Linked DNA regions of Homo sapiens. The protein of the gene in region 1 interacts with the protein of each later gene in a pairwise test. Each region holds a gene or a part of one and is shown on either strand. Other genes may lie near its edges.

Region 1 (16,433 bases):
ACATAGCTTTCAATGACTTTGTCTAATGCCCACAGCAACGACTACTGAATCCTTTTAGAAATGAATTACACATTAATGTGCTACATCTTTTTATCATTAAGACATTATTTAAATCACTATTGTTCTTTAATTTTTTGTTTTATCTAAGTTTAAGGAAATGCAAGACTTGTAATCCTAAGAGAAACATAGTCTAGTATAAAACGCTGGCACTGACTGGGCGTGGTGGCTCATGCCTGTAATTCCAGCACTTTGGGAGGCCGAGGCGGGTGGATCACTGAGGATAGGAGATTGAGACCAGCCTTGCCGACGTGGTGAAACCCCGTTTCTACTAAACATACAACAAATTAGCCAGGTGTGGTGGCGCACACCTGCAATCCCAGCTATTCGGGAGGCTGAGGCAGTATAATCGCTTGAACCCAGCAGGCGGAGGTTGCAGTGAGCCCAAATAGCACCACTGCACTCAGCTTGGGCAACAAAAGCGAAACTCTGGTCTCAAAAAAAAAAAAAAAAAAAAACACACTGGCACTAACAGAACCTGATTTGCTTTTACTAAAAAATAATTACAAGGGTATGTTTATTTGCCCAGAAATGTACCTCAAAGTAATCCAAATGTTGATGAAGGGATGTTCTCATTACAGAAGTATTTAAGTTAATAAACAAAGAAGGAATGATAGGATTAGAATACCTATTTTTGAAATTCCTAACTAAATAATGCATCCCTGGACATTAAAAAAAAAGTCCGTGCAAAATTCAAATATCACAAAGAATAGAATCAAACTCACTATTTCACATGTCTACAAGCACTTTGTTTCCAATTTGGTAGCTTCTGATAATAGCTTTTAAATGATGATGCTTTTAGTGATAGTCACAGGATATAAAACAAGAAGATAAAGGACATGCAAAGAAAACGTCTGGAACCACACACCCGAAACTGTTAACAGGAGCTTCTTGGGAGTGGCGGTGGGTGGGACAGCTTTCTACACATCTGTGTTCTATTTTTAAAGTTTATTATTTATATGTATTTTTATTTTGAGATGGAGTCCCACTCTGTCACCCAGGCTGGAGTGCAGTGGAACGATCTCGGCTCACTGCAACCTCTGCCTCCTGGGTTCAAGGGATTCTTCTGCCTCAGCCTCCAGAGTAGCTGGGATTACAGGCATGCACCACCACTCCTGGCTTAGTTTTATACTTTTAGTAGAGACGGGGTTTCACCATGTTGGCTAGGCTGGTCTCGAACTCCTGACCTCAAGTGATCTGCCTGCCTCAGCCTCCCAAAGTGCTGGGATTACAGGTGTAAGCCACTACACCCGGCCAAGTTTATTATTTCCATAATCAAAACTTTTAACAAAGACAAGATAGGGAAGCCAAGCTAGGAAGGAACTAAATTTAGAAACAGAATCAAACACATGAACAGAAATGAGGCTTCTGTTTATGTATTTGCAAAAAATTTCTATACTTTGCACCCATATCTCTGACTACAGGGACCACTTTTGTCATTGGTACTAATTTGTTTACAGGTTCTGATCTACAATCATAAAAGAGTGACTGTACAGTCTTCAAAGTGCCTTCCACATAACTGAGAAGTAACTTAAGCCCTGGAAGAATTAGGGTCCCTAAACTTGGCAGTCTTTGGTACCCATGGGCGGCTCAGTGCACTGGGGTTATTACCATTCTGAAAGAATGCTAAGTAAACCACAAATGCTTAGAAAATCTATCATACAGTACTGACGGCAATCTGAAGCAGAACCAGTAGGTGGCGCACTAAAACAGGCATTAGAGACCAGGACACCGGCAGTAAATCAATCCAGTTGGCCAACCTCGGGGTCTTTAAACCTAGTGGGTTTTAACCAGGCTCAGGAATTCTATTAATCATTTTATGTGGGTATCACAGAGAAGAGGAGGCTCTAAATGTGGTTCTATTTTTTTCTGACGACTATTTTCCAATCATAAACACATTTACATCTTCATTATATTTAACTAGCTTAGCTAGCTTTAGAAATACATTAGCTAGTCTTAGAAATACATTCTAATGCTAAACTAAGCAATACCAGGATAACAAAACTGCATCCAAAAGGGGGGGGAAGGGCAAAATTGTTTTTATGAAAAATTCTAAGTTATTGAGGTGCTTAAAAGCAAAAATATACAGGAACATCACCACCGCCAAAATAATTTTCCATAACTGGAGCAAATGCCATCTTCCCCAGCTGTGTTATTTTGCAGAGAAAGGCCAATAAAAATGAATGGTCCTCAAAAAGGAGAAACAGATTTCCCTTCATGCTCTTTCCACCTGCACTTCTGACTTTTCAGATGTTAAAATAAGGGTCAAATTTCTGTCAAAATGCAAGACTGCGTGATTATAGATTAAAAGGGTTGGTGAATCATTGACATGAAGTTTCAGAAGTAATGCAGTCCTGCTTTGGAGCCCTATCCAGTGGTGTCTGAGACCTATGCACAATGGCTTTATGGAGTGGGGAGCGGGGCTGCAGGTGAGCTGCAGGGCTTAGAAACACACACACAGTCCTTCATGGAAGACGAGGTTAGGGGGTTACTAAACCTCCTCTGAAAGCAGCTTGCCTGGAGGCTAGAGCATGATTTATTACAGAAACGACCTTACAGACAACTGCCTGCCCCTTCCTGAGGGAGGAGGAAGGTGGAGAGAGAATGTGTACGTATCAGGAGCAGTTTCCTGTTTCTTGGGGTTAGAGCAAGACCTGCCTCTGACGTTCTCCCTTCTCATCTCCCTATTTCTTCCTTTCTCCATGCCCTCATTTCTTCCCACAGATCCTCAAAGGGTGCCTGCATTATCTTCCCCAACCCAGGACTGACCCCGAGGCTCCAAATCACCTGCCTTCCTCCAAGCAAACTTCCGTCTCCCAGCTGACCTCGGCTAGGCATACGGAGCAATACACTAACACACCATCGCTAAGCCTCCCTTTCAACTCTTCTAAGTTTTTGGATTTTTCAAAGAGAAAACATGTTATCTTCCCCTACCCTTACTCCCCAAAGGAACTTAAGGCAAAAAAAGAAAAAAAAAAAAGGCGGTGTGTGCATGTGTGTGTGTAATTCTTGGCTAGGAAAACTGGGCAGGCAAGCAACATCCCTGTAGCTAAACTTCCTTTCCAGAGAAACTTTTCTCTCTTCGTTTCTTTACCCAAATTCTTCAAAATCCCCCAATGGCTCAAGTATTATTTAAGGACAGTTGCCCTAGCCAGAAATACAGGGGACAGGCAACAGATGTCAGCAGGCATTTTTAAGCTGGAGGCTCCCTGAAACAAAGCTAAGCACTGGCACCTACCTGGAATTTCCTACCTAGACATTCTTGGAAATTTTCATGCCACTCTGTGATTTTCACCTGTCCTACTCTTCTATGACTGGTTTGAAAAGGAGAAAAATTCCATGGGGTGTTTCTAAATCTTCGCCCCTCATGAATTAGTTATTTTGCATTAATGTGTATTATAAATGGGAAAGAAGTTAATTATTTCATTTCAGATGAAATATAATGATCCAGTGAGCAAACAACCCACCCTCTCTCCTCTCTCTGCTAACAAGCCACCCAATTTTACTTTCCTGCCTCCACCCATCTGCTCCACCCTATGGAGAGTTGCCAAGGCAAGTCCAACTTGTCCAAACAGGACATGGCTTCAGATAAGATTCTGCCCACACCCTGTACTTCGGAAAGACCAAGTGAAGCAATTGATTTTGCATGTCAATAAGGACAGGTGCAAAGGTAACAACCAAGCAGAAGCCTGACAAGTTTCCAAACTGAGGCCTAGCAAAGCAGGGCTGGGGGCGGGGACACCCACACCTATGCTACCCTCTAAGTTCAAGGCCATCTGGCTAGTGGCATTCCACACCCTTCTTAGAGAAACTGCAGCAAACTCGAATCATTTTCCCTACTAGGGTTACACACTTGTTTATGCTCTCTGACAATTTTGTGTTTTAGTTTTAAGGGCAGGCAACCCAAGATAAATTGAAAAATACCCATAATGTCTAATCCTGCTGTGTACATATCTCACAAGGCCTCGCCTAAGCCCTCACAATTCTCCTCTATGAAGTGTTATATAATCAAATCCAGAAGGGCTGCGTGAGGCCACACTGCCTCTCATCTGCCTCTGCTCAGTGCCCTCCCTATCACTGGAGACCCACCCAACTCCACCCTAAGGAGCCTCCACCCATGGGGCCCCACCCTGCAGGGAGTGGGAGGTTGGGAGGGACCAGTTGGCGCTGGGCAGCAGCCAGTTCCTGGAAATTCCGGCCTGAACAGGGATGGTTAGAATCTTAAAAATAACCAGAAGGAACCATGGGGCTGTGATCATTCCTCTGCTCCTGAGGATTCTCCACTGAAGTTCCTCCCAGAGAGCCACTGAAACTTTGGATACAAAACCATGAGCGAAGCCTACCCTCTCCCTTTAAAAATAAGCAGAAAAGAAAGAGAAAAGCATTTTGAACCACTGCTATCAACGTGGCCCAAACCAACCCTACCCCTCCTTGTTCCTGCCTCTAAGGCTGCCCCCTCCCCGCCTCCCATTGGCCTTATTTTCTGGTCCTTCACCATGGAAACCTAGAGGCCATCTCTGAAGCCTTCCTCACCTCCTTTGCTCTCCCCTCCTGCCTTGGGGGCCAGGCCCTCAGCGCCTCCCACCTGCATTGCTGCAGCTTTTCCACCACTGGTCTCCCTCAGCCTCTCCAGTCCAGCCCTCACCCCTTGCCACCCACGTTTTTCACAGATCTCTTCTCATCCCATCCTTCTCCAGCTCACAACCTTCCCTCCCGTGCACTCCCCGGGTCTGACAGTGGGCTCAGGCACCCATGCTTGGCACCCCGTTACCCACGAGCTGCCCCCTGCTCCAACAAGTGCCCTTCATGCCGGCTGCCCTGCCCACCCCCAGGCCTTTGTTCATTTTTGGCCCTGATGCTGGGCAACCGGCAATGGAATGCCCCCTCCCCTTCCGGCTTATCTAAATCCCCCTAATTCTTCAAAGACCAGCTCAAGGCCCTCCCCACTCTGTGCAGCCAGCTGATTGCTCCCTGGGGGATCCAAGGCCGCCTCTTCTTACCTAGATAGTCTAGGCCTCTTAGCTTTCCCAGTGGTGCGTCCCACACCGCCACCAGTACTGGGAAGGACAGACAGGCAGGCCTCAGCCTTCCTGAGAGGGCTCCCTCCCCACTCCCCACAGGAGATCGGGCTTGTTCCCTGAATGAAGTTTTTATGTCAAGCCTAAGGAGCTAACATAAGAGCACTTAGCTTATAGTAGGAGTTCCACAATCATCTCCCTTTCCCTCTGAATGCACTTGAAATCTCCCTTAAACAAGTAATAGGGATGAAGGGCCTAACTCTAAGGGAGACCTAGTAAACCAAACTTCCTAAGGAAAAGTTATTGCCCCTAACCTTAGCCTGGCCCATCATGTGTACTCCAGAGACCTTATTAGTACCATCTTCAAATAATTTATTATTATCCACTCAGTGAGGTCTTCTAAACAAGTCTAGTGTCGAGGTCTCTACTGTACTTTAAAATCTAAAATAGAAAAAAGAAAGCGAGAAAGGGAGGAGAGGAGGCAGGTGGGGGGGAACTGCAAGGGGAAGGGGTGTGTGCACAAACACAGGTTTTTGAAAAGGGATCAAGGAAGGCAAGGGGCTAAGTGATGTCACAGGTTTCCTGCCAATCACCACCACCTTCGTGATTGGCAATCCCCAGGCGCTGTTTAATGTCAATGAGGTGGTTACTACCTTCCCGTTTTACTGAAAAGAACACTGAAACAGAGAGGTCAAGTAACCTGCCTAACATCACACAGCTGCTAACTCGTAGAGCCAGGACTTGAACCCAAGGTAGTCTGACTTAAGACTGGTGGCCTTGGCACACCACTCTTCCACCTCCCCAGGCAGAGGACAACATTACACCACCAACAGTAAGTACATGATAGTGATTTCTGTGAACAGGTTGGTCCCCGGAGAAGACAGAACGTGGGGACAGTCTGTTTACATTAGTGACAGTTTCCACTCCTTCCAACTGGCCCCTGCTGCCCACCCTGTCTCAGTACGCACACTTGGATGCAAGATCAAAAGACACATTCTGAAGGCCCCAAATTAGGCAATTATTCTTCCTAGCCAGTGCACCTGCATTGTCGATATAACTGCTGAGAAAAATTGGCAGCTTGACCCAAGTAAATACGGAAATCCTCATAATAACTGCACAAAGGTGGAAGGGTCAGGTCCTCATCCCCATTTTAGAAATGAGGAAATGGAGGAACAGAGGTGAAATGACTCGCCCAATTTCACAGAGCTGGTTGGAGCTGCAGCCAGGAACAGAAGCGTGTCTGCCTGCAGACCCGGGCACTTTCTGTTCTGCTTCAGAGCCTGTGCTGTGGGACCGACTTTTAGGTAAAATCGCCTAATGCTGGGGTCTTTCCCCAGTAGGGAGGGTGTGGGTGTGCACAGCCACACTGGCCCATGGGAAGCAGTGCCAGGGGGAGGTTCCAGCAGGCAATTAAGATTTCAAAATGCCTTTTCAGGTTAGATCACTGTAGATCTACTCCATCCTATGGCATAACTCAGAGTAATGATTGCACATAATTTGAGATTAGCTCTAATAAGTAGGTACTCAATAAATACTTGTGAGATGAATAAATGAATGGATGTCAAACTACACTTCTCACATGCTAGGATAAATTAAGGGCAAGGGCCCTGGAATGATGGTACACCAGGTGTCCTACATGGAAACTCTGTCCAGCGGCTGGTGAAGCCAGCCTGAAACCTCATCTTCTAAAATGCAAAGTAAATGTGAAAACTTTGGGAGCCTGGGAGAGAAAAACTCCCTGGTTTGGAAACTCAGCGGAACAGGAACTCGATCTTACAAATGAAAGAGGCTTTGGAGTGTGAAGCTTTGGAAGGTACCAGGGATGCAAAGTACAGGAACAGATAAAGGAGTGGATTTCAGTGATTACACTTAAACAACAGTGGTAGTAGAAAGAACAGCATATAGGCCAGAGAAAAAACCCCACACTTGATTTGCAGGTCGCTCTCCAGGGCAGAATCCGCTGACCTCAATACTCATTTGATCTCTTATGTCCAGATTTGGCCAAACTCCACTGATTTGGGTTGAGACTAGCTCTGGGCCATCCCTGGCAGGATCCACAAGCCTTCCAGAGACTGGCAACCATCCTGAGGATGTCCCAGACTAAGCAGGGCAATTCTGGGTCCTCCTGCAAAGGGTCTGCCTCAGGGAGCGCCCCCTTACAGGAAACAGGGTAAGAGCCAGACCCAGGGGTTACATGAAATGCATGGGCTAGAGGGCCACTTAACTTGCTCTCTTCTGTCTCCAGCCCTTCTAAATAATTAGATGGAGAAATGATAATGAATTCAGCCTGCCGACACAATGGAGTGAGTTTCAAAAACCTCCAGGAGCCTGTTTTGCTAAAGAAACAATTTTACTACAAACTCTCTGGCCAACGGATACAAAATGCACAGATCATTTTTTTATTTTCTTACTGTTCCAGAGAATATGGTCACATTCATTACAGAATAAGGACAAGGCCAGTTAAGAGGACATCTTTTTTTTTTTTTTTTTTTTTTTTTTTTTTGAGACAGAGTCTCACTCTTGTTGCCCAGGCTGCAGTGCAGTGGCACAATCTCGGCTCACTGCAACCTCCACCTCCCAGGTTCAGGCAATTCTCCTGCCTCAGCCTCCTGAGTAGCTGGGATTACAGGCGCCCACCACCACGCCCGGATAATTTTTGTACTTTTAGTAAAGATGGGGTTTTGCCATGTTGGCTAGGCTGGTCTCGAACTCCTGACCTCAGGTGATCCACCCACTTCGGCCTCCCAAAGTGCTGAAATTACAGGTGTGAGCCACCGCGCCCGGCCGAGGACACTATTTTTTTGCTTTGGAAGAAATGAATCCTAGTTTTGGTTCAGAAACTGTCAACAGCATTGTGCCTCTTCTATGACTACTAAATTTCAAGCAAAGAGAGCTGAGTTGGGGGTAAAAGCAGGGCTATTCCCCGCCTTCAGACAATGCTGTCCCTTATCAGGGCAGACTGCTGTCTGGTTTCCTGTCTCCAGCTCGGGCATGACTGCTTAAGATGAGAAACATGGTCTAAGAAAGGAACAGAGTGGTCTTGAAAATGAGAATGCTAGCGACCACCATAACCCTCTTCCAACTCACTCCCAAGAGGAATTCTGACTAGAATATCACATACTAGCAAACTAGATATCAATTGTTTTAAGATTCTAGGGATTTGCTTTTTTAAAAAGCTAGAACCAATGATAAATGATGCACTTCAGAAAGAATCCAAGTTCCAGAATAATGTAATTGTAATTCCTAGTACCTTAAAGAATGAGGTTGTGTGTATTTTATTTTTCTTAAACTCAACTGGGTGTGAAAACAGAGAACAAGAAATGCTGCCTAAGAAATCTGTCGTTTTATAGCAAAAATGTTGATTTGAAAATATTAAGAAGGCAAGTATCTCAAGGGGCGATGGAGACACAATGAAATTAAATTAGGAATCATGATTTATATGGTTAAGAAATTAAAACTCTTGTTCCCATCTTTCTGGTAATCATAGCAACTATAAGATAGGATAATTTTCCCCAACTATTCAGCTTAGCATTTAGAAGCTTGCAGAATTTTTTTCTGATAGAATATATTAGACCCTAATTATCTCTATTAACCACTTCATCTCCCTGCAAAAGAGAGAAGAAAGAATTTGGGGAAAGCCAAATAAAGACTCTGTTTACCAAACCTAGTTAGATTGTTAACAACTTTGGAACCAAAACAAACAAAAAAACCTGCTTCGATTGGAGTTACTTATGAATTTTAAGCTTAAAAGTCTCTTGTCCTACAGGTCAGCTAAGTATTTCCAGCTGCTTTTCCCAAAGGAGAAAGAAGTTATTGGGACTTCTAAAACTCCCAGCTTTTTTCATAGAAGGTTATCAGTAGCCAACTATTTGATACTAATAACTCTCTTAATATCATATTTTATATTTTCCATTTATACATAAAGAATGTGGTGGAATGTGACATTTAAAACGCACCATTATCATCAATTTTGGGGAGAAGAGAGCCTGATTTGCTGCTTCAGCAACTCTTTAAATTAATTCCACAGAGATGCTGTAGATGATTCCTTTTGATTAAAAAAAAAAAATCCCCAAGTAAGTTTACAAAAGCACTTTCCAAAACTTTTCTTTTTCAAGCAAATATTTCCTTAAATCTTAGTTTCTCAAGAACCAACAGAAAACTAATATTAAGGCAGGTCTTAAATAGTTATCCTAGAAATTCATTAACCCACAACTGATAGAATATTTTTAAAAAATGAAAAATATTATTGTAAAACAAAAATGAGAAGAGCATTCTTCTTGTTTTCAAAATAGAAGATTAAAATTTTCCAAACAATCTAGCATTAAATGAATTTGTTAATGCCAGTTCTCCTTTGAGCTTTTTAATTCTTAAAAACGGGTTGGAAATGAGGTGTAGAATATTGCACAGTGAAATCTTTGTCCTTAAAACATTATCCTGATATTTAAATCTTTGTCCTTAAAAAGAAATAATCCCGGGATTTTCTCAATGTCTTAGGCTTTGCTTCAATGATTTTTCTAAAGATTTCTCCTTCCAAACATAAGCAAGACTTAAACTAAAGCCAGGCTGCCAACATTGCTTAAATTCTCCATCCACGGAAGCCACCTGGAGCAGCCTGGGTTAAACGTGAACGAGGGTGGGCCACATCTTTCAGATAATGCTAGGTCTTCTAAACTGTAAGGTGTTAATCCTGATCCAAAATTGACAGCTTCAGGGCAAAATGCCTATCTTAAAACAAACGCCCTAACCACTTCAACACAAGAATTACAAACAAATACAAACAAAACTCCTTTAGGTTTCTTTGCCAGGATGGACCCACGTTTCCCCAAATCACAATCTAGCAATAAAAAATTTAAAAAGGTAAAAGCATTTATTCACCCAGACAAATGCAGTGGAGCAAAGGGTGTACGTAAAAAGGTTAACTGACTTCTCATTATGACATAACACAGGCGTCTTAAGCAATATCAAGTGTGTAGAGACATGATAACTCCATGGGTGGGGATACGGAGTTTAGGGGCAGGGACCTCAGCCTGGTCTGGGCTACTGATCTACCAGAAAACAGCCTGAAACAGGAAAGAGCACACATATGCCACTTGGAATGTATGACGCAAACCCCAGCCTTGAAACAAAGAACAGGAAACAGCTCTGCTGGCTGTGCTGGAGAGAAAGCACAGAGAAACATTTAGCCGGCCCTCCCTGACCCTATATTCATGAGCAGCTGGAGTTTTTTAAGACAACAACAGGGGGGTGGAGGTGTTTGTTCTACGGGTGTGAATAATAACACCAGCTTTATACAGGGGACCTGCCCTATTTACAAATAAGAGCTGCCACATACAGTAAACATCATAAGTGAAATGTGATTTTATCATATTCAAGCAGCAGAGACCTTCCTAATGAACACTAGCCTCCCTCCTGATTTCTTTTGTCCCTTTCTGCCCCATTCCAATGGCTAGTCCCTAGCTCAGATCAAATTCCGAGTTAGGGTAATGATTATGGTTCAGCCTCAGTGCATCAAGAGGAAAAAAGATAGAGCACTGCTGTTAGGAATTCAGATTACAATTGGGGTACCCCACAGAACCAAAATTGGAGCAACTGTAAGCCTCCTTTAGTCACAGAACTAAATTCCAAGACAGACTGTGGGACATCTACAGTAACCCAAAATTTTCACTGTCTTTTTCAAATGCAGTTATACACATCTTTGCAGAGCTGCTCATCTGTTCAACATATACACACGTTTATAGAAATTCGCCTTTTAAGAATGTGATTCTGTTCCTGACATTTATCTAAAAATTATTATGCAATCTGTACACCAGAGTACTAATTTCTAGAAGTCATTCTAAAATGTCTATTTTCCCTTTGGGTTATTTTTAAGATAGTAAAATCCATTCACAGTTCCTTTCCCATTATTTCTCTTTACTTTGTTAGCCAGGACTGTTTAACTCAAGCTTACGTTATCAGAGATTTAAGAATGTGGTGTGTGCAGACTAAGTACAGGTAAGGAAAAAAAAAAAGAAAAAAAAAGGAAAAAAAGAGCATCACTGTGCCCATAGCAACAAGAAGATTGGGTTTTAATTTAGAAACTTTGCAGTGAATAAAACAATAGCTTTCTGCAAAACTCTGTTGTCGTTTTGTACCTGACAAGGTTTTGTGGTCTAAGCAGTTACTTTTCTTTGTTATTCCCATGTTGAGATTTTTGTACTTGCATTCCCTTTCATGCAAGCTAAATGTTCTTTACAATGTATCATCATTGAACTTACCGATAGTACATTAGGTTTTTTTCTTCTAATAAATAGTTCTGCAGCAAAGCCCACTGACTGCAGAAATGAAGATACCAGTTTCTCTAGGGAGTTTAATTTAATCGAACATCTAATTTCAGGTTTCTATTAACAGCCTAAGGTCAACTAACATACCTCTTTTCAAACCAGAAGAAATCACTCGTGGACACTTTCCTTAAACACTATTACTAACTCCAAAAAATTTGTAGATATTAATGCTAGCAGATTGTTTTTTCCCCTAAAAGCAAGTCTTCTTCCCTAGGGTGAGGCAGATCATCCAGATGAATTTCTCTTATAAAAATGCTCCTCAAATTCGTACAGAAAAGGATAGCACAAAACTGCTGTGTGGAAAAACCTATAATGAACAACTGGCCTATTCCCCACTTGATTTTGCTGGCACATTTCAGGTACTTGTCAGAATACCACTTCATACTTTTTCCCATATACCAGACTCTTGTGAGAATATAATCAATATATTTAAAATGTCTTGGGTGATATTAATGGAAACATAAATTCTGAGTAAGAAATTCAGTGGTTAAGTGTAAAATGTTTATTTTAGTGAAATACAAGAAGGTGAGCAATTTCCAATTTCCGTTTAACTTGACTTATTAAAAATAAGTCTCATTCACATTCTTCTAGTATTATTGTATACTGCTATAAAATTTAAACCAGAAAAGTGCTTCTCCTTGTCAGTAGCTATCTGCCCAAAAAAATGAATATGACAATTCCAGATCTCATCTGCCATCTCTAAGAAAGCCACTTGGAAATGTTAGGTAGGTCCCATGGGTCCTGATCCAGGGATCTGTCCCTGGGTCCCCATCAGGCTCGGCTGCAGGCAGTTGCCTAAGGCGTCTTCCGCCTTCAGCCACGCTGCAATCCTTGCTCCAGGCACTGCGGCAGGTTCTCTCCATGCCCCCAGGAAGACTCTCCAAACCCGACCAGCTCATTTCTCCTGCCCCGGAGGATCCAGACGCCCTGGCAGCTCCTGGGCTCCAGAACCGAGAATGGGATGCTGCCTCCAATCCCAATTGCCCTAAGTTTCTTTCCAGAGGGCCGGGAGACTGCTCCAAGTTTGCTGTGGCGGGCGAGCGGCCGCGCGCCGTGTCCTGGGAGGGGGGCGGCGGGGGGCGCGGGCGGAGGGAGGGGAGGGGAAGGACGCGGGAGCCTGGGTTGTGGTGGTGGTGGGGGGGCACCGGGAGGGGGAGGAGCAGGAGCGCGCGGCCGCGGCGCTACCTTTCTCCAAACAACGTTGCCACACGCGGAGAGCACGGAGATTTCTGGGGCTTTGGAGGGAATCGTGAGCGGGCGGGAGGAGGCCGGGGACCACACAGGTGAGCCCCCGCCCGCGCCCTGCCCGGGACGGCGGCGGGCGCTGCCAGCCCCGCTCCCCCGCACCCGGGGTCCGCACGGTGCCTCGCCTCAACCCCTCACTTTTCACCGCGAACCCGTGACCCCCTCCTCCTTGCTTGCTCTCCGCCCCCACCCCGGCTAAGTGTAGCCGCCACACTTTCCCAAGCCCGCAGGCGCCCCCCCCAACACCAGCGCTGCACCCCCGACCCATTCCCCGCGGCCCCCTCCAGGAGAAAAAATGAAACCAGACTGGCCGAGGAGGGGGGCGGCAGGGACCAGGGTGCGGAGCAGAGGTGAGGGAGACGGGACTTACTTTGCGAGGCGCGGTGCAGGGCGCCGCCGACGAGAAATAAAGGCCCCGATACGGGCTGCCTGGAGCCCCCCGAGCGCAGCAATGTCAGGGCTCCAGTCCGGGCGGCGTTGGCGGCCGCAGGGGACGGGGACGGGCGCGCGTGCGGCGGGCGCTCTCGCTGCGCTCCGGCTCGGGCCCCGGCTCCGCGCGGCTCCGCTCCTGGCTCCCCTCTGGCTCCTGGCACCAACTCCGGGCAGTCACATGACGCCGGCGCCGCTCGCTCTGCGAGCCTCCCGGGGCTGGCGGGGTAAGTAGAGGCTGGGACCCGGGGTGGGAGGGTCAGGGAGGGGAGAGGGAGCCGCCGCGGCCGCCCGGGCTGGGCGGGTCCCCACCCACTTGGGTGGAGGCAGCCGCCGGAGGGGTCGGCCGAGTCACTCGCGCAAACACGCACCCCGCCCTGCGCCCTTCCCCCGCCACCCCCGCCTCCCGCGCCGCCTCCGCCCCGCCCCGCCCAGTCACCCGGGGACGGCCTGACAGACACTCATTATTCCCCGGAGCCGGGCGCCGCCCCGCCGGCCCAACCTGTCCCACGAGGCGCGGCGCGGCCGTGGGGCTGGGCGTGCGCGGCGCGGCCTCCGCCCCCCGCCCGCGTCCCCGCCCGCGTCCCCTCCCCGCGCCCTCCTCCCCGGAGTCCGCGCCCCGCCAGCCCTCCCGCCCGGCCCAGCCGCCGCGCCGCCGCCCGAGCCCGGGGGGAAGGAAGGGCGGCGCTGCCCGCTCCGGGCGTCACACGGCTGCGGCCCGCTGCGCTGCTTCCAAAACACACAGCCGGGCTCGCGGGCGAGCCGAGGCGGGGGGCGCGGGCTGCCAGGGCCATCGATCAGCCGGCTCCAGCGGGAAGGGCGGCCCCGGGCGCGGCGGGAAGGGCTGGGCCCCGCGGCCGGCGCGGCGCGGCGCGGCCCCTCCTCGGCTGAGCGCACTCAGCTCACTGCAAGAGAAAAGCCGAGCCGAGGCGGCCGCGGTGCAGGAGCGAGTGGGCCGGGCGGGTTCGGGAGGGGAAGAGCGGCCGCTGGGGCGCGCCGAGCCTCCCTGGCCCCGAGTCGCCGGGGTCAGGGGACACCCTGTAGGCGCGCTCTTTCTTTGTGCCCTGGGGCGACGGGTCCCCCTGGCCGGCGGCCCAGGCGGCGCCCCCCACCTCGTGGGACTTTTCTTTGAAGGCCCGGAGACCCCTGGGGCAAAACTCCCACGGGCCAGGCCTGCCGCTGGAGCTAAAAAGCGGCATTTGCGCAGTTGGGCTTGCCTGGAAACTTGGCAAACTTTGGTCGGATCCTCCCCTGCAGAGCGAGGGCCTGGCCTGGCGACCCCCTCATTTCAAGTCGCTTCTAGGGACCTAGCGCCCTAAGCTCAGTGGCCTTCAGGGTGCTGCGAGCGAGCGGGGCGGCACAAAAGCGCGTTCGGTCCAAGCCAGGCCCCTTCGAGGACTTTGTGTAGATTGGTACCTAAGTTTAATGCCTTTTGAGTTTCTTTTTAAACAGTATTAATGTAATAATTAATGTAATAAAAAGAACAAAGGACGAATTCGTTCGATTGTTTTAAGTTCTGTGTAATGTTTAAAACCGCCCCTGCTTCAGTGTATGGCTTATTATTGCTTCAAGATGTTTTAAAGGCCCTTTAAGTTGACCCATCTCGCTTTGATGCTTCATCCAGACATCGTGCTGCTTAAAACGGAGTGATAATAGTATATTTCGAGCCGCTTCATGTAGCTACACAGTATTGTAAAATTAGTACTCGGTAACCTCAAGTAGTGAAATCGCATATTTTAAATAACGCAAGTCCAGGAAAGGCCACGTGGAGGATACCCAGAACCGACGCCGGCTCATGGGACGTCGTGCTGTCCCATAAGCTTCATCTTTAAAATGTAAAGGGTGTGAGTTTTTTTTTTCTTCATAATGAATAAAAGACATTCCAGAAAAAAAAAGAGTTGGATTCGTGTCAATTACTAATTGCCATTTATTGATCACTGACATCATTAAATGGCTGATTGGCTGCCTTAAGGTTTGCATTAGCGGAACACCGTGCTAGGAATGGCTGGTGAAACTGGCTCATAGTAGGTGCTCAAAAAAGTACGTTTTTTTCTCCAGGGACACAGTGACGAGAACTTGAAGCACATAAACCATGTTTTTTACCTTGTTCATGTGGGTGTGGACGCAAAGGGGAAGAGCGAAATAGGCCTGTCGGAGAAAAGTGTGACCCAAGATAAGAAGGGAGTGGTTTTGATATGGAAGGGGCAGGCGGCAAAGGAGAAGAAAAGCCATTTTAAACAGTTAATTAGTGAACACTGTGTTCGGTGCCCTGTGGGAAGCTGCTCAAATGCAACTTGTCGGAAATGAATCTATCTAGTGCTGGGTAGCTCAGTGAAGGACACCATCATTCTTCAAAGTGCCCAACAGGGTGGGGCGCGGTCGCTCACGCCTGTAATCCCAGCACTTTGGGAGGCCGAGTTGGGTGGATCACTTGAGGCCAGGAGTTCGAGACCAGTCTGGCCAAGTTGGCGAAACATCGTCTCTACGGAAATTACAAAAATTAGGCATGGCGGCGCACGCCTGTAATCCTAGCTATGTAGGGAGGCTGAGACAGGGTGATTGCTTGAATTCAAGAGGTGGAGGTTGTAGTGAGCTGAGATCATGTCACCACTGAACAGAGTGAGACTCTGTCAAAAAAAAAAAAAAAACCAAAACAAAACAAAAAAAAAACAAAACCCCAACAGAAGCACCTAAGCCTTTCTTCTCGCTAGCAGGGCATAGCCCATGTTTCACTGAGTCCTGGACCTCCTTGGTCACTACCCACTCTCTGGCCACTATGCTGGCCCAGCCTGTTGCCACCATGTCTTGTTGGTCATCCTGTCATCCTGTTTGTAGTATGGGCTGAAGCATGAAAAAGGCATTGGAGCACGGGAGTAAGAGTGCCCTTTCCAAAATGCAAGCCTGATCGTGTCAGTCCCTTCAATGGCTTCCCATAGGATGAAGTCCTAAGCTTTCCACCCCTGCTGGCCTGGCCTCTGCCTGTCATTACAGACACTTCTTCCTCTTCTCTCTTCCTACTCTTTTCCAGCAACGCTGAACTTCTTTCCGTTCCTTTCTTCCAACTCTCTCTTCCCACCTCTGGCCCTTTGCACATGCTCATTTTTCTAGGTAGAAAAGCCTTGTCTTCTCAACCTGACCTCTACTCCCATTTCCCTAAATTCTATACATCGTTTCAGTCTTGACTTAAATGACATTTTCTCCAAATATGTATTCTCTCACTGCACCTTTGGACAAGTTGAGGTGCTCTGGTAACATCTAGTGGGGCGTGATGGGAGATGTTTGGGTCATGGGAGTGGATCCTCCTATTTCCCCTCTTGTAACACTTTCCGTTCTTGTAGTTGGCTATTTAATGATCTCTCTGTGG
Region 2 (16,433 bases), on another chromosome or scaffold:
ACAGGATCTGCAGAAAATTTAATGCAAATGGCAGGGAAGAGCAGCCACACCGAGTGGACTGAGGGTCAGAGGCCACAGCGCCTCAGGCTCCCTCCGTGTGGTTCCATACCTTGGCAGCAGGCAGTGGTGTTTTCAGCAGCACCCACCTCATTCTCAGCCGCGCCTCCGGGTCCACACCCAGCCAGCTCTAGCCTCCTCACCCCTGCTCCCAGAGAGCACCTCCCTGGCTGGCTGAGAATCCCAGAACCGGCATCGCCAGAGCTGGGAGGAACTCAGAGGTGGACCAGCAAGCCCCAGCCCTCGGTGCCAGGAGAGGCACCTGGGGCCCCGGGCAGAGGCAAACCTGCCGCTCTTGCCCTCCCTCCCTTGTTCTGAGATGGGGCTCAACGGCCACCTTGGGAGCAGCCCTCCTGGCCTCCTAATCCAATACGAGGCTTATGTCTCACTCTCCCTAAGGAAGGCAAGGAACATGGACTGAGACAGACGGCGCAGCGGAGGGAGAGAGAGGGAGCACCATGAGCCCAAGAGCCTGTGAGGCAGGTAAAAGGCATGACACAGGCGCCCGGAGCTCCAGACGATACGGACTCTTGCTTATGGCAACATCATGGCAATAAACTGGCCCTCTGGGCCACCCAGCGGAGGAGGCACTATCGCTCTAGCCCCTCCAGGGAAGATAAGGAGCCAGGCCAAGGGCGGGCAGGAGGGATGCTTGGGGTCACTAGCCAGGAGGAGCAAGGAGGAGCACCCAGCTTGGAGGGTCATGCCCAGCAGCTCAGTGACCTCAGGTACATTCCTCTCCCCCTGGGCCTGGCCCACCAGTGTCTCACCTCACAGAGAAGCGGCCCAGGGTCCACTGTCTTCAAAGTTCTCTCCTTCCCCAAAATAACTTCCTGAGGAAGGGAAGGCTTGGGAGCCTAAGGCACCGCTAAGGGACAGCACATGTAGCCACAGCATTCCCCTCTCTTTTGAAAAACTGGAAGGCCCAGGAACCCTGGGCTCTCCGAGTCCCCACTCAGAGCCACCAAACTTGCCACCTGGGGCTAGACTGAGCCCCCGGCTCCACCAGCCTCCGCACAGCAGGGTCCGCCTTCCTCCTGCAGACTCTGTGCTGCTCTACCGCTCTCCAAGCCCCTGTTATTCTACTTGTTTGGGGATGCGTGAGTGTATGCTCAATCTTACATTTGCATGCTTCTCAAAATGTCATGCATGAATTTGACAGGTATTTTATGTGCCAGGCTCTGTGCAAGGCACTCAGGACAGGGCAGGGACAAGATTGGGGGATGAGCCCCTGGTCCCTGGAGATGCTGTGGCAGCCCAGCCCTGCCGGCGGCTGCAGGTGACCTCTCAGCATGGGGGCAGCATCTTCTGGCAGCATAGGCAGCTTGTGGCACCAGGTCCTGGGATGTACATGTCACATGTCTACACCAGCTCATCTTTGTTTTAGGGACATCATTTTATCTCTCTTTGGAAATCACTTGACTTCTTTAGCCTACTCTCCTCCGCGTCCCCACAGCACTTGCTCAGCACTCCAAGCTGCTGATGCTCACTCCTTTCAGGGTCTGAAGCTCCTGATATCAACCCTTCCCAGCAAATGCCAGGTCCCCCCATGCAGGGCACCACCCCTGTGCCTGCTTCGTAGCCCCGTGGCCGAGACTTGGTCTTGGTCCTGCTCAGCCCCGGGTGCAGGCAGAGGAGGGAGAGCCTGGAGTGGAACTGGCTGGCTGTGGATCACCCACCTCCCGGTTCCCCACAGGCCTGGGCCCACAAGTACCGACTCAGGGAGTCCCCTACATCCCTGCCAAGGCCTCCAGGTTGCTTAGGTTTCATAGGTTTTGGGAGGTGGCTGTCATTAACTGAGCACTTTCTGTATAGAGGTCTTAATACACACCTGCCCATTTTTGTTAATCCTCATCACAGACACCACTTCTGCCTTTGATGGAAGAGGAGAGGGTTTCCAGTGAGGGAAGGAGACGGGGAGGGCCTGGGCGGTCGAGTCAGTGTGCACAGGAGGAGGACTGGCCTGAGAGCCACCCCACTCTCTCCCAGCCCAGGCTTGTCCTGAGTCTGTGTACCCCATGGAGAAGCCAGCGGCTCCCCATCTGCTCTCCCTCCCTGGGCCCATGAGTGGGGGATCCCAGGCTTGGCATTCACTGTCCCCAGGTCACAGTGGGGAGGGGTGGGCTGCAAAGACTGCAGTCCTTCCTGGTCCTGCTCCCAGGGCCACTGCCCACCCCTGCCCCCTGTCACCCCTACCCCAGATAAGGCAGGCCCAATCCTTGACCCGGCCCAAAGCTGTCCCTTCTGTAGCCCCATCCCAGCCCCACCAAAGCAACCCTCACCTCCAGCCAGGTTCCCAGAGATGAAGCGGAAGAAGACGCTGATGATGCCTCCCAGGTGCTTCCCACAGCCATGCTGGCACTCCTGCAGCCTCGGGCCAGGGCCGCACCCTGCCATCCTTGGGCCTGGCTTAATCCGCCCGACTCCTGCCCTCAGCTCTGCCCTGCCTGCCACTGTGCAGGCGGTACCCCCACAAGCCTGCTCCCTGACCTCCTCTGCCAGCCTCTCCTCAGCCTGACACTCAACACCTTTCTTTTTCTAGGACTCCCCACTCCTGGTCTGTCTGTCTGTCTCTGTCTCTCAAAAGCAGCGTCTCTCCTCTTGGTCTCAGCTTGTCCCCAGTGTCTTGGGCGCTCTGGGCCTGTCCTTCTCTCCTCTGCTTTCTGTCCCTGCTTCTGGCTCTCCCAGCCTTTCCGGGGACTGCCTGCCCCTCAGCCCAGAGCCCCGGGGCAGCCAGAGTGCACTCAGTCCTCCTGCCTTGGGTTTGCCTTCTCAGGTAGCCCCTGCCCCTGCCACAGGGCTGGCCCCTTCACCTGGTGCCTGGCCTCAGCCTCCAGGCCCCCGGAGCTCACTGTTCCTGGAGGCAGAAGGGCCCCTGCGGCTTCCTGGGCTGGGAGGCGTGGGGATGGGGTGGGCGTCACTCCTGAGCTCCCAGCACCAACAGAGGAGGTGACACTGGTGTGATTATCAGCTGAGGGTGTGATCTCACTGCAGAGGGGCCTCACCCGGGCCCCAGGGCTTCTCTGCAGCCAGACAGGGAACAGCCTGCTCTCACACAGTCCCCTGCCTAGGAGGCTCAGGGCCAGGGGCCCTGAGTAGGACGGGGGCATAGGTAGGGCCCTAGCCTTAGGCTGTCTCTTGACCTCTGACCTCTATCCACTGGCCTCATCCCTCAGCCCTGCTGTGCCTCTCTAAAATGCAGAAGGGGAAGTGGGAAGCGGTTCCTCTGCTGAGGAGCAGAAGGGAGAGCCAAATTCATGACTGGAGCTGACCAACCCCCTGCCCTCCACATTTTTGAGCACTTAGCAATAAATAAAGGCGATAACAGCCAGGCAGCTTGCTAAGGTCTTTCTGGGTGCCAGTGAGTGCCTTCAGTCATCAAAACAACCCTGCAAGCCACATGTGGCTGAGAATGCCAGTTCTGTATTCATTCTTCCTGAGTTTCACCAGCAGGGTTCAGATGCTGTTGGAGATGGAAATGCGCCCAGCTGAAAACTCCACCATTCCCCTGCCTTCCTCGCAGTGAGGGCAGCTTATCTCTGGCCAGTGGAATGGAAGCATCTGTCTTCCAGAGACTTCTGTGAGTGCTGCCTTCCTGACATGGGGACCACCACTCTCCGCTTCCACCTGGGTTCTCCTTCCTGTTGCCTGAAATGAGGCTGTGTGGGCTGCAAAGCAACCACATTGCCACAGTGAGGGGAACGGTAGAAGAACCCAAGACATTGACACTGACGTCCCCCAGCTGCCAAACTAGTGCCAGCCACCGCCTCACCCCATGTTTCCCATATAGGAGCCGATGCACCTGTCTTGATCAAGCCACTGTTATTTGGGGTTTCTGTTATATGCAAGTTCAGGCAAGCCAAGGGATCCCTTGCAGAGGGAAAGACGAGCTGCTGCGCCTCGCACCCCTGCCAGTAAAGGAAGGTGCGGTGCCCGGCGGGCCTCCTGTGCACCACAGTTAAATGTGCGGCTCAGAGGCTGTTCCGCAGGTGCAGGCCAAGTACAAGCAGTGCTGCCCCTTGGGCCTAATGACCCAGAACATTCAATGACACACGATGAGTCTAAGGCAAGTTGGAATGCTCTACGGGGCCATGGCAGGCCCCCAGAGGGGAAATCTGTGGTCTCTTGGGTTTTGAGCAATGCCAAAAATCTCTCCTGTTGGCATTCAGCTAACTTCCCACTGCTGGGCTGCTGTGGGGGTGGAGCGCCTGATGGTGAGAGAGACAGAGACAGAGAGACAGAGTAGGTGGCCATGAGCCCCGAAACACCCAACAGCAATCGAGTATCAACCTCTCGCCCAGCCCCACTGGTATCTGCATGTGCACACAGTGCTCTGTCGTCATGCCCAGGTGCTGTGGATGGGGCCCGAGGCAGGGCAGGTCTGGAGGGCGCAGGGAGGCTGTACCTGCGGGGGCTGCGACTCCCACAGTACCTGCTGCATTGCCGCTTTCCCCACAGCCCACCCGCCCCCTACGGTCTCGAAGCCGTCTGAGGAGGAAAAACTTTCGGAGGTGACTTATAGACAGAGCTGCAAGAAATGTTGGCCCCAACTCTAGGTGACACTGAGGCCCACCTAGGGGAAGGACGTGGAGAAGGGACATCTTCCTGGTACATGTGTTGCCCACATTGTCTGAAGAAGAGAGGGCCGAAGGCACAGGTTTACACTGATTCATGGATGGCTGTTAACCATTAGTTCAGGGGTCAGGGAGGTGGAGGGGCAGGATCGGGGGAGTAAGGGCTGGGAGGCCTGGGGAGGAACCACCCGGAGTGTGGGACAGCAAGTGCTTCACAAGTGCCCTCCAAGGGGCGCTGGGGCCGAGGAGGCACTGGACGATCAGGTGGGCCAGTGGTCCCCTCTGTGCACCTCACAGCCTCTGTTCCTGGCTCCTCTGGCATTTGCTTGAGAACGAAACACCGTAGATTCAATAAAAGAACTTCTCCCTGGGCCGATCAGGCTGCAGCTGCAGTTCAGTGCCCAGCCAGCCACCAGGTGGCAGGTCAGCCACTCTGCATCCCTGCCATCACTCTGGGGCTCCCATTATCCTCATGGGAGTGATGGTCACTCTGGGTGTGACCTTCCCTCTGGCCTGCCCTGGTGCTGCCAGCACCTCCCCCATCACGGTGCCTCCACGCCATAGATCCCAAGCAACAGACTCATTTCACCACGGAATAGAGCGGTGTGACCAAAGACCAGGGCTCACAGGCTCCCGTCCCCGTCCTGTGCCCACCCCCAGAGGCAGCTGGCCTCACAGAACAGTGATGAGACCCGCTGAAGACTGGTTCTGGCAGCCGTTGCGGGTTCCAGGGCTGCCCTGTCGGGTGCCAGTGACACTGCTGGATGTGCTGCCTCTCCCCCAGCCAGAAGAACAAGCCCGGAGCCCGGGAAAACACGCAAAGGCCCCTCCCTCATCCAGTGCCTGCTCACCGCACCTCTGCTGCTCCTCACCAATACTCCAGGCTCTGGATTAGAGGCTTTAAATTCCCATGGGAGAATGGGTCCCCAGCAGGAGGCAGCAGGGGTTCTGCTAAACTGGAAGCTGGGACGGCCGCCTGGCCATGCTGGGCCCCTCACACCACTCAGACCAACTGGCATCAAGGGCCATCGGCCAGTGAATGACCCTATTATCGAGGGGAGCAGGGAGGACTCTGCTTCAAATCCAGTGAATTCTCCAGGGAGCCTAGCAACACTGCCAGTTACAGTGATGAAAGTCAGTGGGGGCTTCTAGCAACCCCAATGAGGCAGGACCACCCAGGACTCAGATCCCTCAGGAATGGGGGTTTGGATCACTCCACCAAGGACTCAGCCACATCTTTGTGGCTTTAATCCATCTTTAATCCATCTTTGTGGTGGATTAAAGATGGCCACAGATGTCATACTACAACCCCATGGAAAGGGGTTAATTCTCAGAAATCCTTGAAAATTTGCACTGATCTGACATCTCACTTTGATATCATGTATCTTGATGCTTCATGATGTCAATTGTATCCTGTATCTTCAAATACGCGAAAATTCTGTTTATAGATCTTTACGTATTAGAGACGAGTTAACTCACCTTTTGTTCCGATGCCTTTCTGCTACCCCTCTTTCCCAGGAGCACTGGTGGTGGTGTCTTTATGATTTTACGTGGGGTTGCCATGGCACCCCGGGGAGAATGAGCATCTCCCTGGGATGCATCGGCGACTGAGGAGGATGTGGGTCTTCTCTCTGGGGGAGGGGCATGTGCATGCGTGTGTGTAAGTATGCGTGTGTGTGTGCTCATGTGTGTGTGTATGTGTGTGTGCTTGTGTGTGTATGTGTGTGTGTGTGTATGTGTGTGTGTGTGTGTGAGGAATGGCTGCACCGTGTCACACAGAAGCGTGCAGCAGCTGCTAGAGCGTTCCTGCCAGAGTGGTCCAGGATGCCAGGCATCTCCCAAGGCGCTAGGTGGGGCCCTGGCTTCGTCCCATTCAGACCTCGTTCTCTGGTCCTCCGGAGTTTCTGTGAACTTCCTGAGGCCTGGAGCCCACCCTGTTTCGGTTGTCTGCAGCTGGGACCCCAGGTTATTTGTGGGTGACATTATTATTCCAGTTGAAGAAACCCAAGTCCCACAGCCCTTGTGGGCATCAAACTTGAGAAACAGGTCTGTCCAGTTGTGGCACTGGCCATGCCTCTGGAGAGGCATCCTGCAGGGAGAGGCTTTAGATGCAGGGGAGGCATGCAGGGCAGGCCAGAGTCCCAGCTTCCGGGTCATGGAAGAGGGTCCAAGGAGCTTCTAGGCTGAGGATGGGGCGCCTCTCCTGGGTAGGGTGGGGCCAGGCTGCCTGTGCTCTGAGTCTCCTGGGCTCCCCTCTTAGAGGCCCCACTGCTGGCCACCTCCTGACTCCATCCTGGGGTCTTCACACCCAGAATTGGCCACCCAGGGCCCAGCCACAGATGCTCTAGCCCTTGCCCACTGTCTCCAGGACCCTGGGTCCTGTCCACTCCTTGCCGACGTTCTACCTCACCCAAGCCTCCAGGACTCCCAGGCTGGGCCTTGGCTTTCACTCCCAGCTGTTCCCGACATGTGTCTCTGGCCCCACTTCTGCTGAATGGAAAAACCCCAGTACAAGGGCACAGTGTCTGGGCCGCCCCCCTCCCACAGGACCCCAAGGCTCAGGACACCGTGCTGGGCCTCGCAGAGCACACAGTGGGGCTGCACTGAATGGGCCCCATTGTTCTTTGCACCCAGAGCCTGTGCCAGCTCCCAAAGAGGGGGGATGCCTCATCTGCACACCGCGCAGCACTTCACACGTGCACAAAGCCCTCAGTGTGACCACACCAGCCCGGCCTCCTTGCGGGACACACACGGGACGTGTTTGGACTGAAGAGAGGAGACCCGGGAGCTATGGCCAAGGGAGACAAAGGGCACATTGGAGTCCCGGCTCCTCTGTCCGTGAGGTCCCTGGGCTCCCTCGTCCCTCAGCTCCCACCAAAGACGCTCGTCAGGGTGGGCACCGTGGAGCTCTGGGCCCGAGCCTCCCCCACCCCAACCCCCGCTTCTTGTGCCATCTGCTGAGTCACGTGACCTCTCTGAGCTGCCATGGACGCTCTGGTAAATCAGGGTGATGAGCTCCACACTGCCTTCCTTGCACAATCAAATAGGCTCTTGGATGTGTCGTTCACATCTGCTCCCAGTGCCGGCACAAGGTCCGGTAAACACATCCATGCAGGGGAACAAACCCATCGCTGGTGCCCTGGCCCAGCCCTGGCCCTGTCTCCTGTGCGCCTTTGACAAGTTGTTCAGCAAACGTGTCCTGACAGCTGGGTGTGGAAAGGCCCTGCCCTCTAGGAAGCTTCCGTGAGGTGGGATGGGGCATGCAGGGGTGGGCCGTGCAGGGGTGGTCCCCCCCGCCCTGACTTGAACACGCCATGCCGGCCCCTCTGTCACCTTTCTCCCCGTCCACCCCACTCAGCATAGCTGCTGCTGTCACGGGTGTGCAGAAAGCTTCGGCAAAGGATGCACACCAGCCCCACCCGTCCTGAGCCACCTCTGCCTGCCAGAGAGAGACGGGAGGATGAGGCTGAGCATCTGCAGGACCTGAGGGATGGAGGGAGGGTACCACTGCAGCACCCCTTAAATACTTGTTGCCACCAAGAAAACCCTGGAAGACTGAAGTGGAGGAAATCTGAGTCTCGAGCGACCTGAAGCTGTGCCCGTCAGAGTGGACCTGAGCCGCCAGCACATGCGATGGCCACCGTGCTCTCGCCCCCACCCTAAGGGAGAGCAGGCGCATTTTCATTCTGATGCAGAATGAACAGTGCCCTGAAGGCGGTCCTTCCCGGTCGAGCTATGTGCATGTGCTTTTAGTGACCTCATCATGTTTCTGCTACCTGCAAAACCTGCCACCCCCATCCCCGAGAAGTTGGGGGTGCATGTGGAACTCACTCATGCATTCACAGGTGCTAGCGCTTCCATGGGAAGGGGTTGGGGACAAGTCTCAGCCAAGGTGACAGCATCACAGATGGGTAGGGGCTCTGTGGGGAAGCAGAGGTGGTGGTGGCAAAAGGGAGGGGGCTGGAATCGTGCTGGGAGCACCCTGGAGTGGCATTTGTGGGTAAAGGACGGGGATCTGGTGCGTAGCAGCCAGTCCCTTTGTGCACAGGCATGGACCTCTGGCTGTGGCTGTCAGCCACTGTGCCTGCTGTTTGCCCAGACCCCTCAGTTGATCCCCTCCACTCATGACCCCCATCAAGCCTAGGAGGCTGGGACCCCGATCATGCCCATTCTCCTGGCCAGGGGACAAACGCTCCCTGGAAATCACACAGCTAGAGAGGGTCCAAGAGAGCAAACAAGATGCAGCTGTCAAGGGCAAGTCTGCACCTTTTCCTTAAAGTCAGAGGCAGACTCTTATACGCACCATACTCACATGTGTGATCCCATGAGTGTGCATGGTGTGTGGGTGCCTGCATGTGGTGTGTGTATGTGAGTATGCAAGTGTGTATGGTATGCCTACCTATGTGTGCATGATGAGTGTGCAAGCTTGTGTGTGGTAGAGGCACCGGTGTGTGTGCATAGGTGTGAGTGTGAGGTGTCTGAATGTGTGTGTGAGATCGTGGGGGCCGCATGAGGCTGCCATTGTCTGTTCAGCCCTGTTATACTCGGCAAACACCAAATATCACCCATGGCAAGCCCAGGGCAGTGATTTCTGCCCGTTCTCTCGTTAACACACCACCAGAATGCAGCCCAAGGCAAAGAGCCAGCACCAATCCTTGGGGTGCACTGAACAGGACCAAGGAGGGGCTGAGGGTGGGGCCTCCTGATCACCAGGCACTGCACACATTATTTCCCATCTTCAAATGTGCCCTGTGGACAGGTTCCAGCCTGGCTTCTCACGGAAGGCTTAGAAAGGATCAATGAGGTGCCCCGGCTTACTCAGGGCGTGAGCAGTGGGCAGGGTGGAGCCTGGTTTGTTGGACTCTGCAGCCTGGCTCTGTCTTCCTAGCCAACTGGAAAACCGCAGTGTGGTCCCAGCTCTCTGTACCCATGCTCTGTGGGTCCCACTGGGAGCTCAGTGGCCTGTGTGAAGCAGGCACTCAATGAATGGGGAAGGGTGTGAATGAATGAAAACACACCTCCAATAGAGACAGGGGCGATGTAGCCCAGGCTGGGGTCCCAGGCTGGCCTTTGAGCCCTCAGAAAGGACAGTGCTCAGAACAGATCTCCCCACCCCCACCCTTGACCACAGCCCACCCTGGCCCCTACCTGAGCCCTGTGGGGCTGTGCTGGACAGGATCCACTTGACCAGGCAGCATCTCATCAAAGCCTGGCGGCTGAGCCTCGGCCTCTGCCACTTGATACCCTCCTTCTTGCTAAGTGGTGTGTGCCCGAGGTCCCCCAGGAGGCTGCCGTCCGACGCCTTTGTCACTTCCTGCAGTAGGAACAGGCAGAGCAGCCCTGAGCCCCTGCTCAGAGGGGGGACCCCTGGATGGTCCCGAGCTGCCCTGATATCCTAGATGAGGCCAGCCTGAACACAACAGAGGGCTCACCTTCCGGGGCTGCATGCCTAGTGCCCCTTGTCCTGGCCATTCCTGCCAGACCTGGGGAGGTTCCTTTCACTCTACACCCTGGCTATGGTGTAAGATGGGACCCCTGGAAGAGGGGCAGACAGGGGTGCAGAGAGGGGATGTCAGCAGTGATCCCAGACTTACTCATTGGATTCTCCACCTTGGCACAGGCCAGGTTGTCGGAGCTGGACAGCCCCTTAGAAATCACGATCCCAATCCCTCATCTGCCTGAAAACCAGAGAGGCAAGTGGATCTGTACAGGGTCACACAGCCACGTCTGGCTCCCTCACTCCCCCAGCAGGGCCCCTGCTCTGCCTGAGTTTTCATGCTGAGGCAAGCTGAGAATGAATGAAAGGCTGGGTGGTGACCCCAGGAGGGCTGCACTGGTGGAACCGACCACTGAGGCTGGCAGGGATCTGAAGAAACAGCTCCAGCTATGGGCAGGAGAGTCTTGGGAGGAGTGAGTCATGGGTGGTCATTAAGAGGCAGTGGATCAGCCGGGCGTGGTGGTTCACGCCTGTAATCCTAGCACTTTAGGAGGCCGAGGCAGGCGGATCACCTGAGGTCAGGAGTTCGAGACCAGCCTGACCAACATGATGAAACCCTGTCTCTACTAAAAATACAAAAATTAGCCAGACGTGGTGGCATGTGCCTGTAATCCCAGCTACTCAGGAGGTTGAAGCAGGAGAATTGCTTGAGCCCGGGAGACGGAGGTTACAGTGAGCTGAGATCATGCCACTGCACTCCAGCAAGGCCAACAGAGCCAGACTGTCTCAAAAAAAAAAAAAAAGCAGTGGGCCATGTGCCTGAGTCGGTGTGGATCAGAAAACAACCTCCTGGGGTCATGGTGGAGGCCCCAGGGCAGCAGGATTTGCTCTCCTACAACGTATTTCAGGCCCCCCAATCCTGACATCCAAACTGCCCACCATGCTCAGTTCCCATGCTGGCAGCTGGCCCATGAGGCACAGAGGAGGGAGGTGCACCGCAGGCTGCCGCTGGCCACACCTCTGTGCACCTGCTGGGTCTAGTTTGCTGCCTTTGTGCTGTCCTCTCCTGCTCGGGGTGGCAGGGGGACAGGTGTGGTCTGGCCCATTGGACCACAGCCCACCAATGGCCCTCATTTTGTCTGTGACGCACTGCCTGACCTCTAGCTGTGGCAGTGGCACCACCCCCACATGCATATGTGTTCTGAGCAGTTGGGTTCCTTGGCCAGTAAAGAGGGCCACTCAGGGGGTGGGTTGTCCATACCCTTCCCAGGTCACAGGGTCTCGTGTGTGCTACCTTTGCACGGTCCTGAAAAGTATTTGGTTGTTCAAAGTAAATAACAGATGGACGGGGCCGTCAAGCAGCTTCTACAGAGGCAGCCCTGGAAGACAGCCCCTGTGCTAGTTGGACTGTCAGGTGCAAGAGCCAGAGACTGACCCAGGTTGATTTGAACTGGAAGAATTGGCAGCAGGGAGCCCGGGCCAGTCACAGCCTGCAGGGAAGCACAGAGAGCCAGTCCTGGAAAGCAGACGAGATCAGAGAGCAGCGCCGGACACCAGCCCTGGCCATGCCCGTCCACACAGAGCCCAGCGACAGGGCTCTGCTGCTGCTGCAAAGGCTGGCCCCTCTCCCGAGGCATGGGCCTGGCACCCCCACTGGTCTCTGCACACTGCAGGCTCCAGCTGGGGGAGGATTCTCTGGGTGCTTCACTGGCTCATGGTCCCCTGAGGCCTATCCACATTCGGGATGGGCAGCTGGCCCACTAGTCAGTGTTTGATGAAGTGGTCCCCTAGGCAGGGAGATGTCCAGTTCCCTTATCCTGGCTTTTGGGCCTTCCCCAGCTAGGTCCCAACTACCAGTCCTCCAGCTCACAGTCATCATCCACCCTTCCTCCGACACACCCTTGGCAACAACCCCTGCACGTCCCTCCCCTTCTCCAAGGCTCACCAAGCAATGAGGGGGCTCAGTGGTGCCCAGAGCTGCAGCAAGAAGAGGCACTGACCATGCTGATGGAGCAGAAACAGGGGGAGAGCTGGGGGTGGACGGGTGCCTGGGGTGCTGAGGGAAGCTCCCTATGTGCACACGCTATGCACACACACGTGTACAATGCTCACATGCACACACACGCACACACATGCACACAAGTACACATGTTCATATGCACACACAAGCACACATGCATAGGCACACACACGTACACATGCTCATATGCACATGTGCTCACACATACATATGCACACACACGTCCTGTCAGGCTGGGTCAGAAACGCACTTTCTCCATTATTCATGATCTTATTCAGGAGTCTTTATTTTGGTTAAGGAGGGTCGTAGGGGAGAGAGGGGCAGCAGGTGCTTCATTACATCACAAATTCTTTGCTGCAGGCTCTGCGTGGGGGGTGAGCAGAGGACATCAGAAGAAACTGAGGCGGCCTCGGAGCCCCTGGCAGGAGCTCTTCACTGGGACCCCCAGCCCCGTCTGCAGCCCATCTCAGAACAGCACTGGCTTGGCTGGCAAGGCTGCTTCTCGGGGCCCAGGGTTAGTCACAGGGATTCTGTCTTGAAGCCCCAGGCCCAGGTCGTGCGGGAGATCCCATGGGTGTCCTGGGTTCTAGCTCACAGGGCTCAGTCCTCCCGGGAAGGCTGGGTGAGCCCAAAGGGCAGGCTGAGCACCTCCCAAGTGGATGTCTATGTTGAGCTGAAAGTAATCTCGTCACGACAACCCCCTGCAATCGGTAAGACGATCCCCATTTCACAGATGAGGAAACTAATTCCCTGAGAAGTTTTGGGACATGCCAGGGCCACACTACACATATAGTCTTCTGATTCCAAAGTTCACATGGGCTTGACCACAGGCTTTGCTGCTGAGGCTGTTTCTCGGCCTGGGTCCCTGGGGCGGTCTCTGGAGCTGGGTGTGTTCCGAAGCCCCTCAGGCACATCAGCAGCCTTCCAAAAATATCCGTTGAGGAGTGCTGTGATGCCCTCCTGGGCTAGGGGGCCCCAGTGTGTCTTTTCTCCCTGTGGAGAGAGTCTGGGTGGAGTGGTGGTGGGGGTTCCGGGCCAGGCTCCTCCATCTGGCTGAGGGGCCAGAATCCCACCTGTGAGCCCCACAAGGCAGGCCCATGATGGGCACCCCTCTTTGTGAGGCAGGGGGTGGGTTCTGAGAAGAGAAGGGAGGGGAGGGCCAGGGACAGGAGGGCAGGGAGACCCCAGCAGCCGAGCCTGGGAAGCTGGGACTCATCAGGCTGCGGCCTGGGCCCTCAGGCTGCTGGGGAGGCGGGAGGAGGTCATCCTCATGAATATCTGACACTTGTCTGTCTGGAAGAGGGTCTGACTGAGCTGTCAGGGAATGTTAAATAGCAGCCCAGGCACCCTCCTGCTGGCTTGGGAGGCTCACAGCATGGAAGGGAGGGCGTCCTAAGAGGCGGCCCCCTGGCCCCTCACCCCACAGTGCCTTGGTGCTGGGAGAGAAGCTGGGGCAGTGATGAGATGGAACATGAATTAGATGCCCCAACCCTGCCGGGAGCCCCAGTGCCTCCTTGCCAGGCCCTGACAGCCCCACCGTGCCCCTCCAAGTCTGCTCCCACACCACCGCCTTGGCACCTGCTGCTCCTGGCACTGGACACTTCTGCCCCAGGCGTTTAAGGCCTCACTCACGGCTCAGGTCCTAGAAGAGCCCTGCCTGACTACCTAGGCCACCCTCCCCCATGCACCTCCATCTCAGCACTTCTTCACCCAGCCCTTGTGAACTGATCCTATTATTGTGTTTTCTGTCTCTCCCCTTTAGCGCATCAGCTCTGCGAGAGTGGAACCTGATCCTCATGTGACCTGCTTTTCCTCGTGACACAGCCTGGCACCCAAGAGATCCTCACTCCCAAAACTCAACAGTAAAAGAGCAAACCATCAGGTTAGAAAATGTGAAAGACATGCACAGACATTTCACCAGAGAGGACACGTGGATGGCAAAGGCGGCGGGAAGAGATGTTCGCCGTCATTAGCCATTCTGGCAACGCAGAGGAGGACCGCTGTGAGACACCACCATGTGCCTGTCCGAACAGCTAGAACCAAAGATAATGACAACTGAAAGCTGGTGAGGATGTGGAGAAACGGAATCACCCCTCCATTGTCGGTGGAAAGGGAAAACGCCTTAGCCACTCTGGAGAACAGTCTGGCAGCTTCCTATAAAAACTAGGCATGCGCTACCACAGAGCCCGACCACGGTATTTTTGGCCGTTTATCCTGAAGAAACGAAAAGTTATGTTCAAGTGAAAACATGTACACAAATGTTCATGGCAGCTTTACTTGGAACGGCCCCATACTGGAAGCAACCCAATGCCCTTCAATGGGTGAATGATTAAACAAACTCCAGTGCATCCATACCACGGAATTCTGGACAAGTAAAACAAACAAACTGTTGGCGCACACCACACCTGCGTGAACCTCCAGAGAATTACGCTGAATGAAAAAGCCAACCCAAAAGGTCACATTCTGTGTGATTCTATTTATATAACATTGTAAAATGACAAAGTTTTAGAAATGGAGAACAGATTAGAGGGCCAGGGGTTAAGGATGGGGGGAGGCAGGCAGGAGGGAGAGGGGTGTGGCTCTCACAGGGCGGCAGGAGGGGCCTTGAGGGGACAGAGCTGTTTTGCATCTTGATGGTGCTGTTGAGTGCCTGAACCTACACGTGATAAAAATTGTAGCAAAAAATGCACACGGAAATGAGTGCGTGTGAACTGGGAAATCGGACTAGGACTGGTGGGTTGCATCATTGCAGACACTCCAGTTGTGCTATTGTGTTGTAGTTTTGAAATATGCTGTCATTGGGGAAACCAGGTTAAGTGTACATGGGCCCTCTTTGTGAGCTCCTGCAACTGCATGTGAATCTACAACGAGCTCAATAAAGATTTCCATCAAAAAATACTCTCATGCACCCAAAAAGAAGGTGTTAAAAACGCAAGCATGCACAAGGCTCTGAATAAATATTCACGAATGATCAAAAGTCCCCTGTGCTCTTCACAATTCACCTGGGGCTCTCTCCTCCCACTCCTGCTCGATGCCGGCCTCATTTTAATGGGTGACAGAACTGTCATTGTCTACCAGCTTTAGAGGATGGCCAGGGTTGAGTGGCAGAGACGAGTGAAGCCAGAAGATCTGGGCCCTGGGTTCAGGCAGAGTCCCTGGTGGCATACTTGGCAGTGTGGGCATTTAGGGCTGTGTCCCAGAAACGGCCCTAGGCTGGCCCTGGGGACCTGCAGCCTTCTCAAAGGTCACAAGTTTCCCTGAAGGATAGAGGCTGCTGGTGAGCCAGGCAGGCCATTCTCTGCCAGTCACCTGGTGGCCGAGATCTGTAGCTCCTGCCCAGCCAGGCAGGCCAGGACCAGGCCTCAACTTCCTTCTAAGTCCTCCTGGCCTGTGGGGAGCCAGGGAGGGATGGAAAAAGATGGCGTGGGTGATGCCCCTGCTGTGTGCTGGTGCTGAGTTAGTTGTTTGGAGGGGTTATCATATTTAATGGTCACACCAACTTTTTGAGGTTCCTTAGAACCTCAAAATTACCCAAAGCACCCAACTGAGCCCCAAATCCGGTAATGGATTCTAGCTCACCCGTTCTCATGCAGCTTGCCAGGGTCCCTGGGGTATGCGTTCTCCTGTTATTCAACAGGGGTAAACCCAGCCTGTTCTGAGTCAGCTGCGTCCTGGGGGCTTTGGCCTGAGGTCTCTGGCAGTGGGGAGCTGCACCTACGAGGTGCAGGAGATGACTTAGACTCGGGGCCAGCACACTCTCCAGCTCCCCACTGCCATTCTCTTTACAAAGGGAGGGCACGGCCTCAGCTCAGAGCCTCAACAGGCCACAGACCATGGGTGGGAGTTTATCGCTGCTGCCTTATTTCATGGCAATGTGGTGGTTACCTTCCACTTCTGCTCCCGGCTTCCCACTTACAGTACTGATTTAAAGATTCCCTTTTAAATGAATTCACTAAAATTCAATGCATGAGTTAATTTAAAGAAAAATAATAAGAAACAATAGCACAGGTCACAACAGATACAGCAAAACGGTAAAGGCAGGAAGTGTATGTTTCTCTCTGTGGCTGAGGCTGGGGGCTTGCTCGACTCAGCCAGGCGACCCCTCAAGTCTGAGTGACGGCGGCCTCTCGCCAGGCTGCTGAGACTGACATGTGGCTGGTCCACACTGAGACGTGCCCTCGTGTAAACACACACTGGGTTCCAAACATTTACTTACTAGACTATCAAATAGTTCATTAAAAATGCTTTATATCAATTGCAGGTTGAAATGATAATCATTTACACTGGGTTTAATAAAACATATGGTTAAAATAATTTAACCTTTTTTTCTTTCTTTACTGTGCCT

Evidence for each region.
Region 2: the proteins of KLF3 (region 1) and KCNIP3 interact in binary tests that used the Homo sapiens proteins (3 or more experiments, as listed by UniProt).

Annotation. Positions count from the first base shown.
Region 1 is NC_000004.12:38,661,039-38,677,471, reverse strand, and holds the start of KLF3 (Krueppel-like factor 3), read right to left. Parts: upstream 13,274-16,433; 5' UTR 13,011-13,273; exon of another isoform or gene 12,844-13,010; intron 12,679-12,843; exon of another isoform or gene 12,579-12,678; intron 1-12,578. UniProt on the Homo sapiens protein: Binds to the CACCC box of erythroid cell-expressed genes. May play a role in hematopoiesis.
Region 2 is NC_000002.12:95,303,867-95,320,299, reverse strand, and holds part of KCNIP3 (calsenilin), read right to left. Parts: intron 9,946-16,433; coding exon 9,780-9,945; intron 1-9,779. UniProt on the Homo sapiens protein: Calcium-dependent transcriptional repressor that binds to the DRE element of genes including PDYN and FOS. Affinity for DNA is reduced upon binding to calcium and enhanced by binding to magnesium. Seems to be involved in nociception.